Linked DNA regions of Homo sapiens: region 2 is linked to region 1. A link means that fine-mapping ties the variant in region 1 to the expression of a gene that starts in the linked region. Tissue or cell type: whole blood. Region 1 holds a variant in brackets; the other region holds the start of a gene. All regions are shown on one strand. Distances are from middle to middle.

Region 1 (6,232 bases):
TGTTTAAAAATAATGTTTTATCTTCCCTCCCTGTTCCTTACCGTTTTCATTTTCCAACAGTCTACTAGAGAAAAACATGGTTGGCCTTGAGAACATAAAGGAAGAGGCATGTATTTGACATGGTATTTTTCCCTTTCTTTATGTTATAATTGAGTAGTAGCCCTCTAATTTGTAGTTTGGGCAAGTACAGCCAACACCCTGACTCTTAACCTTATTATGAGAACTTCCTTTTTACCCCTTTTTTTGTTTTTGTGCAAAACAGAGATGGGGTTGAGGAAGGAGGGTTGGCGAGCAAGGCCAGCTTCTGCCCTACAGAATTGGGTGTGTCTTTTTTTTCAAGTGAGGCTTTGGGAAAGTGTTCAAATGAGAGCAGTCTTAAGGTCTCTAAGAGATGGGGAATGTGCTATGTATATCCTGCCTGTGAAAGCCCAAACCATATGGGAGAAGCTAGAGGATACTAAAAACAATGAAATTGTGATTTGGAAGTTTAGAACATTGTTTTAAAAATTACATTATAAATGTAAGACATGCTTTTTATGTGTATATCCGAAGGGAAACAGCTACATCCTCAAGTTTTTGCAGCCTATATGACTTGAGATTGGAGCTTGTGAATTTAACAGTACTGGTGCCATGAGAATGAGCAAAGCCTAGCCAATGGATACTATTGTGTTTAGATTGTTCATCTTTGGTAGCTTTAGGTTCTTGATCGAGGTTCTTAAGATTTCTAAGTCCTTTATAAAAATAGGTCAAGAGTCCTGTTGTTATGGAGGCTTGATTATCCCAGATATTAGGAGTGAACATTTTTAATAAATCTTTCAGAAAATCTTGGCTAGAAAGAATTCTAAGTTAGTTGTCTAACCACTGAAAACTACCTAGCCAGAGATCATTTAATGAGATATTCTTTGATCTTCATTGCATTTTTTTTGCTCTGGAAAAGGTGGTTCAATTTGAGTTTGTTTTCATGATTTGATTGCAGCTTACTTCATGCCAAGGATTTTTTAGGGAGAGGTCGAATTATTTTTCATTTGGAAGTCATAGGGAGACAGGAGTTGTACTTATGCTGCTACTTGCCAGGAACAGGTTGGGAAGAAAATTGTGGCTGTTGGAATTGATGATGTACTGGCCTAATATAGAAAGGAATTTGTAGGCAGGAGTAAACGTTAACTGACGGTGGGTTAGTGCCCTGCATCTTGCATATTTGAACTGTCTAGAGTTCCTGCCATTGCTGGGTATAAAACGAGGAGCTCTCTGTTGACCTGTAAATCATTAATACTTCTTGACTTAGAGTGTCACTTCACTTTATAGATGACATTTTCCTCTTTCCCCTTGATATTTTCTATGTTGTGTTAGATAATTGGTAGATATATAGTTGTGGTTTAGTACATTTAGGGCTTCTATTTATTTAGATTTTGTTTGTTGGAGTCTGTTTCCAAAAGGGAATGTGCCATTTAGTCTGCATCTGTATCTTTGTGGACTTGATGATCACTGGTTTGATTTTGAAAAATGTCTTTTCCAGCTTTTAGTTACTCTCATCAAATGTCACATATTTTCTAATCACATGCACTCCTTTACCACAGAGGCACATAATCATTTGGCCTCATAGCAGTTATCCATGGCCGTACTGTAGTAAAGTTCCTTAGAACTTTGCCAGGAGTGAACTAGAAAAAAGTGCTTACTAGGGCCTAAGAGTTGCTTTGTGCCGTGTAGTCCGGCCTTTGCACTAGTAGATCATTGCTGACATAGGTCAGTTTAGAGACCTTTCTGTGTTAATGCCTCCTGGTACTGTCTTAAGATACGTACAGTGTCTGTTTTTAGATCTATGCATATGTCATGAAGCTCCTTGTGGGCTCTGCATGAAGCTGCTGCTTTGTTTTTGGGTTAACAGATGTGCCTGTCAACTAGCATGTGTATTGTCCAAATTCCATAAACTTAAGGTTTTTAAGGGCTGTGTGGTTTCTGAGCTCTATGTGTCTTTCCTATCCTTGTACCTTCAAAGGGTGAGAAATGAGATTTATACATCCAAAGTTAGTCTGATAAATATGGCTTTTTGTTTCTCCATGTAACCTAGACTGTCAAAAATAAGTGATGGTGATAAGTAGGCCTGGAGCCTCAGCTTCTGTAAATCTCATTCCTAAAATTTTGCTAGACTCGTGTTGGCAAAAACAAATACCTGTGGATTGTCCTTAAGGCTTTTAATCAGATACCTGTGTTGCTGTTAGCTGAACTGTAGTGAAGCATCGATCCAAATCGGTCTTCTGAAGTATCAGTTATGCTTTTGAGTTTAGAAAATACTTAGGTGTTAGTCTAGTCTTCCCATTCATGAATCAGTGTATGTCCATATCAGAGAGCCTCAACTTCTTTTTTCTTCCTTTTTAAAAATGATTTTAGTGTTTTGATTTAGTGTATACTACATAGTTCAGTATTATTGGCTTTACCAGTGTTGACAGAAAAATTTTAAATCTCCAGTTGCAAACAGCAATGGATTAGGATATGGAAATAAAATCATGGTGACATCACTGCTGAGTTATCTTAAACCTCTGCTACTTAATTCTCCATATTGAAATGCATACTCCTCCACATACATGGCTTCCAAGTAAAGGCAATTGTAGAGGGGCCCTGTCTATCCCAGTATGGTTGGATTTTAAACATATCTGTGTTTCCGTTATTTTGGGAACTGATTAATATTTACAATTTTTTTTGTTTATGAGTTATTTTGATACTAAGAAAAGAGAGAATCTAGAACATCTTGCAGTTGAAATACAAATTTTATTCTTTTGGTCTTGGGAGAATTTAAGCAGTCTATGCAACTCATCAAATGGTGAGAAATAGCCCTCCGAGGTTCCAGTAAGCTTTCAGTGACTTTGATACCTCCCCAAGTTTCTTGAGTTGCTGCTTGTTAACACCCAGCTTTTAACTGAGTGTTTGCTCCTGATGGTTTAGGAGATTTTCATGTTGTATCACACTGTCAAGTTTTATTTTGTCTTTTTATCCCTCCGTGGATGTGAGTTTGAAACAAGCACGGTACAGTAATCCTGCCTGATAGAGTAGTCTGGAATGAGAATTACTTTTTGGGTGAGAGAGTTCTCCATTTTAATGTTTCTAAAGTTTTTCATATGAACTTGGCATTGGAAAAGGGAGGTAAAGAAAAAGGACGTTTACTAAAAGCAGTGTCTACTCTTCCCCTTTGTGAGTGTTTATTCATGGCTAATGAAAAAAAGAGAAGGACTCTTGGGTTTTGTGTTGCCATGTTAAGCATGGAGAGGGATGCTTGACAGCATGCTAATTGAAGCCAGAGCAAGTATGTCCTTCATCAGGTAATCAGGAACTCTTCAGTTGAAGCTGAGGAACTAACTGATTAGTTGTTGATCATAATATAATTGGTTACAAAGTGGAAGTGCCAGCTGGCTTAAGTACCCAAAGAAAAGAATGCAGCAGCCTAACTTAGTGTTACCATATGTTACTGAATTTGAAACTGACCTTTTTTCCCACCCTACTTCACACACCTAAAACTCTT[TTC/C]TTGTCAGACCAAAGAGCGAAAAGAAAAAAAAAAGTAAAACACTTTACCAATCTGTCACTCAGGTACAATTTTGTGGTGAGATTTTTGTCTGTTCTCTTTGTATTGCTCTTAAGAGTCCTTTCTCAGCATATTATTCTGCCATTGCCTCTGTCTTCCTTGGGGCACCTCAGCTCTGGATGCTACCCCTGGGATATCTACTGCTGTTATGTGAATGATAGGAGGTAAGTGACCATTATAGTAAGGGCTCTTTGTAAAAAAATTCAAAAAATTTAAAAAGGATGTATACATTTTATAGTCTGGCTATCAGTTTGATATCTTGCTGTCAAGTATGTTTCTCAATCTGTATTTATCCATCCCATCAATAAATGTTAATGGTAAAACACTCATTTGATTGTTGTTTATGTGTACTGTCCTCAAATTAGTCCTTAGTCTTTTTTTTTTTTTTTTTGAGACGGAATCTAGCCCTGTCACCCAGGCTGGAGAGTACAGTGGCGTGATCTCGGCTCACTGCAACCTCTGCTTCCCGGGTTCAAGCGATTCTCCTGTCTCAGCCTCCTGAGTTGCTGGGATTACAGGCACCCACCACTATGCCCAGCTAATTTTTGTATTTTTAGTCGAGACGGGGTTTCACTGTGTTGGCCAGGCTGGTCTCGAACTCTTGACCTCAGGTGATCTACCCACCTCGGCCCCCCAAAGTGCTGGGATTACAGGCATGAGCCACCGCGTCCAGCCTAGTCCTTAGTCTTTAACTGTAATTTTATTGATATGTTTACAATTTTGTTTCAATTTTGGTATTAGTCTGTTTTCTTATTGTGCAAGATCCTGTGGGAATTGAGTCCGTTGGAAAGACCCAAGATTTGTCGATCAGTAAACCCAGTAGTATAAAGTATGTTGTAGTCAAAGGGAAGAAAAAAACCCTCACTCTGTATTGTTACATGAATACCTGGAAGAGTAACTTGTACAAAAAAAAAATTATAGCACTAACAGATGATGGCAGCATGTACTGCTTATCTAGCAAGCATTATCAACATGATTCATAATTGTATACGTGGTTCTTTGAAAAGCCTGACATGTTAGTACAGACATAGCATTGTATCTGGAGGAAAATACACTTCGAAGAAAAAAACATTCTTGGTAGTGCCTGGAAAAATTGATAGTGAATACTCATCCTGAGACGTAATAAAACCACATTTACAAGGTAACTCTTGTAAATTACACACTGAAAATAAAGAACTTTTATGCTAAAGTACTCCATACTTATTACACAAAGTTAGTAATAGATATAGTTTGAAAGCTTTAAAAGGAAAAAAATAAATAATGATACTTCTGAAAAGTCACTTGAGTCGTTTCTTCTGTTTTCTAAAATAAGGTAGCTAATTTTACAAACTGTATACCGCTCCTGAAAAGAATATGAAATCGGAAATCTTTGCAGAAGTTGCTGATAGAATAGGAAGATGCTGACAGTTTAGGAATTCTGGTGTGGTTTGAAGCACTCCCCTGCTTTTCATTCATTCCTTCTTTAGAAAATAATACCTACTTCCCAACACTTTCGGAGGCTGAGGTGGGAGGATTGCTTGAGGCCAGGAGTTCAAGACCAACCTGAGCAACAAAGTGAGACCCCATCTCTGCACACAGACATACAAATTAGCCAGGCACAGTAGTGTATAGTCCCAGCTACTAGGGAGGCTGAGGAGGGAGGATTGTTTGAGCCCAGCAATTGGAGGCTGCAGTGAGCCATGATTGACCACTGCACTCCTGCTGGGCTATAGATCTATACCCAGTCTCGGGAAAAAAAAGTTAAAAAAAAAAAAACTAAGTGCTGTGGACTGTACTAATGGGAATATGGCAGTAAACAAACATTCTGCCTTCAAAGAATTTACAAATAAGTAAAACATAGTATGTTAGGTGGTGATAAGCACTTAAAAAAAATTTTTTTTTTTGAGACGAAGTCTCACTGTCTCCCAGGCCAGAGTGCAGTGGTGAGATAACAGCTCACTGCATCCTTGACCTCCCTAGGCTCAAGTGATCCTCCCATCTCCTGAGTAACTGGGACTACAGGTGTGCACCACCACGCCTGGCTAATTTTTTTAGAGATGGGGTCACCCTATGTTGCCCAGTCTGGTCTTGAACTCCTGGGCTTAAGCGATCTGCCCGTCTGGGCCTCCTTCACTCTTGTTGGGATTATAGGTGTGAGCCACCACACCTGGCCATAATAAGCACTTTGGAGACTAAAACAGGGAATAGGGGATAGGGATGTGTGTGTGCATGTGTGTGTGTGAGCACGTGTGTGTGTTTAGGTAACTAGGGCTGTGGGAATTGGAAAAAAGGTGGCTAGGGAAGGCTTCATGACCAGAAGCTTCATGACCTTTAGGGAAGACCTGAAGGAGGTGACAGCAAGTCATGGGAATAACTAGGATAAGATCATTCCAGGAAACGTGAGACATCAAAGGTTCTGAGGTGAGAATATGCTGGTATGTTTGAGAAATAGCAAGGAAACCAGTGTAGCTGGTATAGGAATGAGTGGGGAGGGGGTATTGGAGAGAGGAGAGTAGCAGGATATGAGGTTAGAGAGGCAATAGAAAGCCAGATACAACAGGACCTTGTATAAAGACAGTGAATGGAACAGACGCTATTGGAAAGTTTTGAGAAGGGAAATGACATCCAACTTAGGTTTTAAAATGTTCATTTGGGCTGCTGTGTTGAAAATAGATCATA
Region 2 (6,232 bases), 28 kb before region 1:
GTAGCTCCATTGACAGCTTGCACCATTTACCTGGAAAAGCCACAAACAGTCAATGCCAGCCTGGAAAGGGAGATAGGAGGGAGGCTGTACCCTTCAAAGCCACAGGGGCAGAGATGCCCAAGACCATGGGGACCCACCTCTTGGATCAGTGTGACCTGGATGTGAGACAGGGAGTCAAAGGGGATCATCTTGGAGTTTTAAGATTCGACTGCCCTGCTGGATTTCGGACTTGCATGGGGCCTGTAGCCCCTTTGTTTTGGCCAATTTCTCCCATTTGGCATGGTTGTATTTACCCAATGCCTGTACCACCATTGTATCTATGAAGTAACTAACTTGCTTTTGATTTTACAGGCTCATAGGTGGAAGGAACTTGCTTGTCTCGGATGAGACTTTGGACTGTGGACTTCTGAGTTAATGCTGAAATGAGTTGAGACTTTGGGGGACTGTGGGGAAGGCATGACTGTATTTTGAAATGTGAGGACATGAGATTTGGGAGGGGCTGGGGGCGGAATGATATGGTTTGGCACTGTGTCCCTACCCAAATCTCATCTTGAATTGCAACTCCCACAATTTCCACATATGGTAGGAGGAACCCGGTGGGAGGTGATTGAATTATGGGGGTGGGTCTTTCCTGTGCTGTTCTCATGATAGTGAATGAGTCTCATGAGATCTGATGGTTTTAAAAAAATGGGAGTTTGCCTGCACAAGCTCTCTGTTTGCCTGCTGTCATCCATGTAAGATGTCACTTGCTCCTCCTTGCCTTCCGCCATGATTGTGAGGCTTCCCCAGCCACGTGGAACTGTGAGTTCTCCATTAAACTTCTTTCCTTTGTAAATTGCCCAGTCTTGGGTTTGTCTTTATCAGCAGCGTGAAAATGGACTAACACAGCTGTTCAAAAGATAACATACATGACTACATAACTGAAAAAGTGCTTATTCTACTAAAAAATCTATTTTGTAAGTGCTTATTCTCTTAATAGTAAAGAGTCTGTGAGGGAAGAAATTTGAAATCCCAAGTTCTTTTACTTTATAACTAGAAGTAAGTCATTTAAATCTTCCTGAACCTCAATTTCTCCAGGGTAAAATGGAGCTAATACTAACTACAGGCAGTATATGGCAGAGGTGACCTGAATGGAAAGAAATACTTCTGAGAATGAATGACAATCAAGCATAGTAAGATCACCCATGCCTAGAAATGACAAAACCCAAAATATTATCAAAGCAAGATGAAGGATTCTAATATTATCCAAATCTATCTAAAATTACCCATATTTAATCAAGGTAAACTGAATATGGTTCCAGAAAAGCAGGAATACAGCTTGCGTGAATGGAAAGATCAATGGAATTAGATTTAAGATCTACACTTATTAGTGGTGTAGTGAGGGCAAACTCCCAAAGCCTCAGTTTCTGTATTGTGGGTGTTTTGCACATTTATCTGACAAAGATTTATGGACTATTTACTAGGGCCAGGGCTTTACTAGGTAAGTGCCATACAAAAATGAAGGCATTGCTCTTGCCTTCAATTTCAATACAATGTAACAAATATTATAACAATAAGGGCTACTGAATATTTTCTAAGTACTAGGTACTATTATAAATACTTTTTACTCATTAAATCTTTACTCCCTTTCACTATCTAAAACATAGGTATTATCACAGAAAAGAGGCATAGAGAAGTTAACTATCTTGCCCAGCACCAAACAGTTATCAGAGGCTGGAGCTGGGATGTATCTTTTTTTTTTTTTTTTTTTTTGAGAAGGAGTCTCGCAATGTTGCCCAGGCTGGAGTGCAGTGGCGCGATTTCGGCCCACTGCAACTTCTGCCTCCCGGGTTCAAATGATTCTCCTGCCTCAGCCTCCCGAGTAGCTGGGAGTACAGGCGTGCGCCACCACGCCTGGCTAATTTTTGTATTTTCAGTAGAGATGAGGTTTCACCATGTTGGCCAGGCTGGTCTCGAACTCCCGACTTCAGGTGATCCACCCGCCTTGGCCTCCCAAAGTGCTGGGATTATAGGCTTGAGCCACCGCGCCCGGCAAAGGAGCTGGGAAATATTTTGACAGAGGGCAAGAACTTGCTAATCTGTGCAAGTGAGGGGTAGTGGTGGAGGCTTTCCACACTCAAGGGGCAGTTTTAGTTCACCCATTCGCAAACGTACTTAAAAATTACCTCTTAGAGTTGTGCTGAATAAATGAAACAGTATATTTAAGTCAGTATTGTGCCTGGGACATGTAAGCTCTTAATTAATGTTATTAATTTCATTTTATTCCTTTAAGTTGGATCACTGGCGAACAACGTGAGAATGTTTTCATGCCTTTGGCTACACATTAAAGCGACCTCTCCAAATGGGTTGTCGCATTTTACATTGCTACCAACAATGTAACAGCCTTCTAGTTGCTTTATGCTCCGATATACGAAAGAGCCCCACCATTTGATTCTGTTTTTCAGTTTCTGACAGCCTCACCTACTTTCTCTTTCAAGTTCATCTGCCACATTTTTACTTATTTTATTTTTTTGAGACGGAGTCTCGCTTTCTCACCCAGGCTGGAGGCTGGGGTGCAGTGGCGTGATCTCGGCTCACTGCGATCTCCGCCTCCCGGGTTCAAGCGATTCTCCTGCCTCAGCTTCCCGAGTAGCTGGGACTACAGGCGCGCGACACCACGCCGGCTAATTTTGTATTTTTAGTAGAGACGGGGGTTTCACCATATTGGCCAGGCTGGTCTCGAACTCCTGACCTCGTGATCCGCCCGCTTCGGGCTCCCAAAGTGCTGGGATTACAGGCGTGAACCACCGCGCCCGGCCCATCTGCCCCATTTTACATCACCACTGCCGTCACAAACAAAGTTCTCGTAAGAACCGCCAAGCGGCGCGTGGGCGGCCGCCCCATCCCACTATAATTGCGGCCTCGCAGCCTGACCCGGGGCGCCAACGCTCAATCCGGTTCTCGCGGGAAGATACACGGTTTTTAAGAAAGAACTTCTAACCCCACTCCACCGCCCAACGGTCACGTGACGCGCCTGCGTCCTCGCCTCAAGGTTTTTTCTGGTCGCATATTGGCTGTTAACTCGGCTACGGGGTGTAGCGAGGTGCATTCCGGAAGTAGGTCCTTTGACTTTTGCTTCCTCTACGGAGGCAAGTAACAACCCGGCGGTCGACGCTTAGCGGAAGTTCGTCAAGTCGCAGTTGCCCCCGCACAGCGGATGTGGGTCGCCTCTTAGGTGACGCTGGGAAGTGCCTGCAGCCTTCGCCGCTGCCTTCTGGTTGAAGCACTATGGAGGGAGAGAGGAAGAACAACAACAAACGGTGGTATTTCACTCGAGAACAGCTGGAAAATAGCCCATCCCGTCGTTTTGGCGTGGACCCAGATAAAGAACTTTCTTATCGCCAGCAGGCGGCCAATCTGCTTCAGGACATGGGGCAGCGTCTTAACGTGTATCCTTGTGGCCTAGGCCTTCGGCCTTGGAGTTGGTCCCGCCATGCTCTGGCGTCCGGGTCTCAGGCTCTGTGGGGGGGACGAAAGTGGGGAAGAAGGTGGGCAGAAGCTGGATGTCTAGTTGGGAGAGCCCACGATGGGGCGGGCTGAAACTCAGTTAGCGCTAGGGAAGCGAGGCAGAGTTGATTTCCCGCTCGCTCACCCGTGCCGCCAGCCTTGCTGGGAATTCGTATCCTTCCCGGCTTTGTGTTTTAACCAGCCCTTCCAACTCTGTCTTCATTGTGTTCTGATCTGCTCTGGTGACGTTAAGATTCTCATTTTCCGCTGTGCCCTAGGGGTCTAGGTCTGGCAGAGGTTTCTCTGTTGACGGCTGCCTCCCAAACCTAGTGTGTAAATTTCGAGAAATTCAGTACCTGAAAGTGTTATAAAGGGTGGACTAGAATTAATGCCTCAGCCTTGGTCCAAAATCCATTCCTCATCTACTAGCTGTTTAAGTGACCTCTCAAATTTTTGGCCGTCTTGTCTATAAAATGGGATAATACCTCTTGTGTTTGATTCTGTGTCCAGCACAGTGCTTTGCATTCAGATGCTCAGTTAGTAGCTACTGTTTTATAGAATTTCAGAGGAAAGATGTTAGTTTACGTTTGTAGGGGATACCCACGAATCTAATGTTTTAAATAGTTTACAAAATACCGGGTCCTTAACTTACTTAGAGTGATGATATGTATTTCATTTTCAAAAATGAGGTAACGGCTGGATGCGGTGGCTCACGCCTGTAATCTCTGCACTTTGGGAGGCCGAGGCGGGTGGATCACCTGAGGTCAGGAGTTCGAGACCAGCCTGGCCAACATGATTAAACCCCTGTCTCTACTAAAAATACAAAAAATTACCCCGGCGTAGTGGCGGGCAGCTGTAATCCCAGCTAGTCAGGAGGCCGACGCAGGAAAATCGCTTGAACCCGGGAGGCGGAGGTTGCAGTTAGCCGAGATGGCGCCACTGCACTCCAGCTTGGGCAACAATAGTGAAACTCCGTCTCAGAAAAAAAAAATTAAAAAAAAAATGAGGTAACCTCTCCCACATATTTTTGTTTGTTAGGAAATACACTTATTTTATGGTGGAGAAAACTAGTATAGTTTTAAATTTCTTTCCACTCTGCGTGTGAAAATTTTCTTGGGTGCAGCTTCTATTTAAATGTGTGGCTGACAGTAATGTGTGTATCTTAAGGGTGTGTTCATCTCAAAATGGGTGTCTGTTTTATCGCCAGTTTGTTTCCTGCTGATGTCCAGGTTTGTTTCCTAAGCATCCTGTCAGTATGGAGTTAAATCTTTTTGTTCGAAATTCTATTTCAGTGCATCCTTAAAATGCTTTCCTTTTTGTATGTGTGTTGTCATTAAGGTTGTCAGCCAGGCGCGGTGGCTCGCGCCTGTAATACCAGCACTTTCGGAGGCCAAGGCAGGTCGATCAGTTGAGGCCAGGAGTTCAAGACCAGCCTGGCCAACATGGTGAAACCATGTCTCTACTAAAAATACAAAAAGTAGCCAGGTCTGTTGGTGGGCGCCTGTAATCTCAGCTACTGGGGAAGCTGAGGCAGGAGAATCGCTTGAATTTGGGAGGTAGAGGTTTCAGTGGGCCAAGATGGTGCCACCGCACTCCAGTGTGGGCGACAGAGTGTGAGCCACCGCGCCTGGCCGCCTTATATAGTTTTTAAAAAAATCTGTCTAGATTCATACATCCTGAGATGTTTGTTTATTCATTCAGTACATTTATATTAAATATTTGTTATGTGTAAGGCATTGTGCTAAGTGTCAGTTGGCGATTAATAATTTGGTGAAAGAAAACAGACATATTCTTTGATTTGGAGAGATAAGTATGATTTTCATTTAGTAGTATCTACTTGCTTGGCCATTTCATCCTTTTGGGAGGGAGATAGAGGTTATCTTTTCCAGAATTATACCTGCCTGTTTTTGGATCTTAACTTGAACACTTCAGCTCACAATTGACTATCAACACTGCTATAGTATACATGCATCGATTCTACATGATTCAGTCCTTCACACAGTTCCCTGGAAATGTAAGTATAATTTTTTTATATGATATAATCCTTTTGTGATTGATTCCACCTACCTATTCCATTTGTGGTTGGTCTTTGCTACTGAACTGTAACTTGAACTTTAGAATTTAGGGTTGATCACTTCCATTATGTGCTGTGTTGCTGTTCTGAATCCAGCTTTTCAGTTTTCCTGTTAAGTGTCTACTTGTCTAGTGGATTTAGTATATCCATGTCGATTCTCTAAAGAAGTAGATTAGGCCGGGTGCAGTGGCTCACAACTGTAATCCCAGCACTTTGAGAGACTGAGATGGGAGGATCACTTGAGCCCAGGAGTTCAAAACCAGCCTGGGCAACATAATGAGACCTCATTTCTACAAAATATCAAAAACAAAAACAAAAAGCAAGTAGCTGGGTGTTGTGGTATGCATCTGTGGTCTCAGCTACTCCAGCAGCTGGCAAGAGGATTGCTTGAACTCAGGGAGTTGAGGATGCAGTGAGCCAAGATTGAGTCGCTTCACTCCAGCCTGGGCATCAGAGTGAGACCCTGTCTTCAAAAAAAACCCCAAAAAACAGATTATCAGACATCTAAAGTCAACATTTTGGGGTTGGAGGAGTAACATTAAAGGGGAAATCATGTGGAATTTAGGTATAGCTTTCTTTTTCTTGCTGGGGTAGGGAGACAGGCAGGGTCTTGCCCTGTTGTCCATGGTGGAATGCAGTGATTTGATTATGGCTCATTGCAGCCTTAACCTT

Evidence for each region. PIP is the estimated chance that this variant, and not a neighbour inherited with it, causes the effect.
Region 2: CCNT1 starts here. The variant in region 1 is fine-mapped to the expression of CCNT1 in whole blood (INTERVAL, PIP above 0.99).

What each region holds. Positions count from the first base shown.
Region 1 is chr12:48,686,129-48,692,360 of GRCh38, reverse strand. CCNT1 (cyclin T1) reads left to right here. Exons shown (of 9, transcript NM_001240.4): 9 at 1-3,903. Among named protein-coding and RNA genes, the nearest start is that of KANSL2, 7.0 kb to the right of the region's middle. The variant TTC/C (reference allele first, on the strand shown) is at 3,515.
Region 2 is chr12:48,713,711-48,719,942 of GRCh38, reverse strand. It overlaps CCNT1 (cyclin T1), which reads left to right and starts at 3,236. Exons shown (of 9, transcript NM_001240.4): 1 at 3,236-3,428; 2 at 5,419-5,500. The coding sequence starts at 3,268. RefSeq lists enhancers at 2,482-2,721, 2,121-3,121, 3,192-3,471.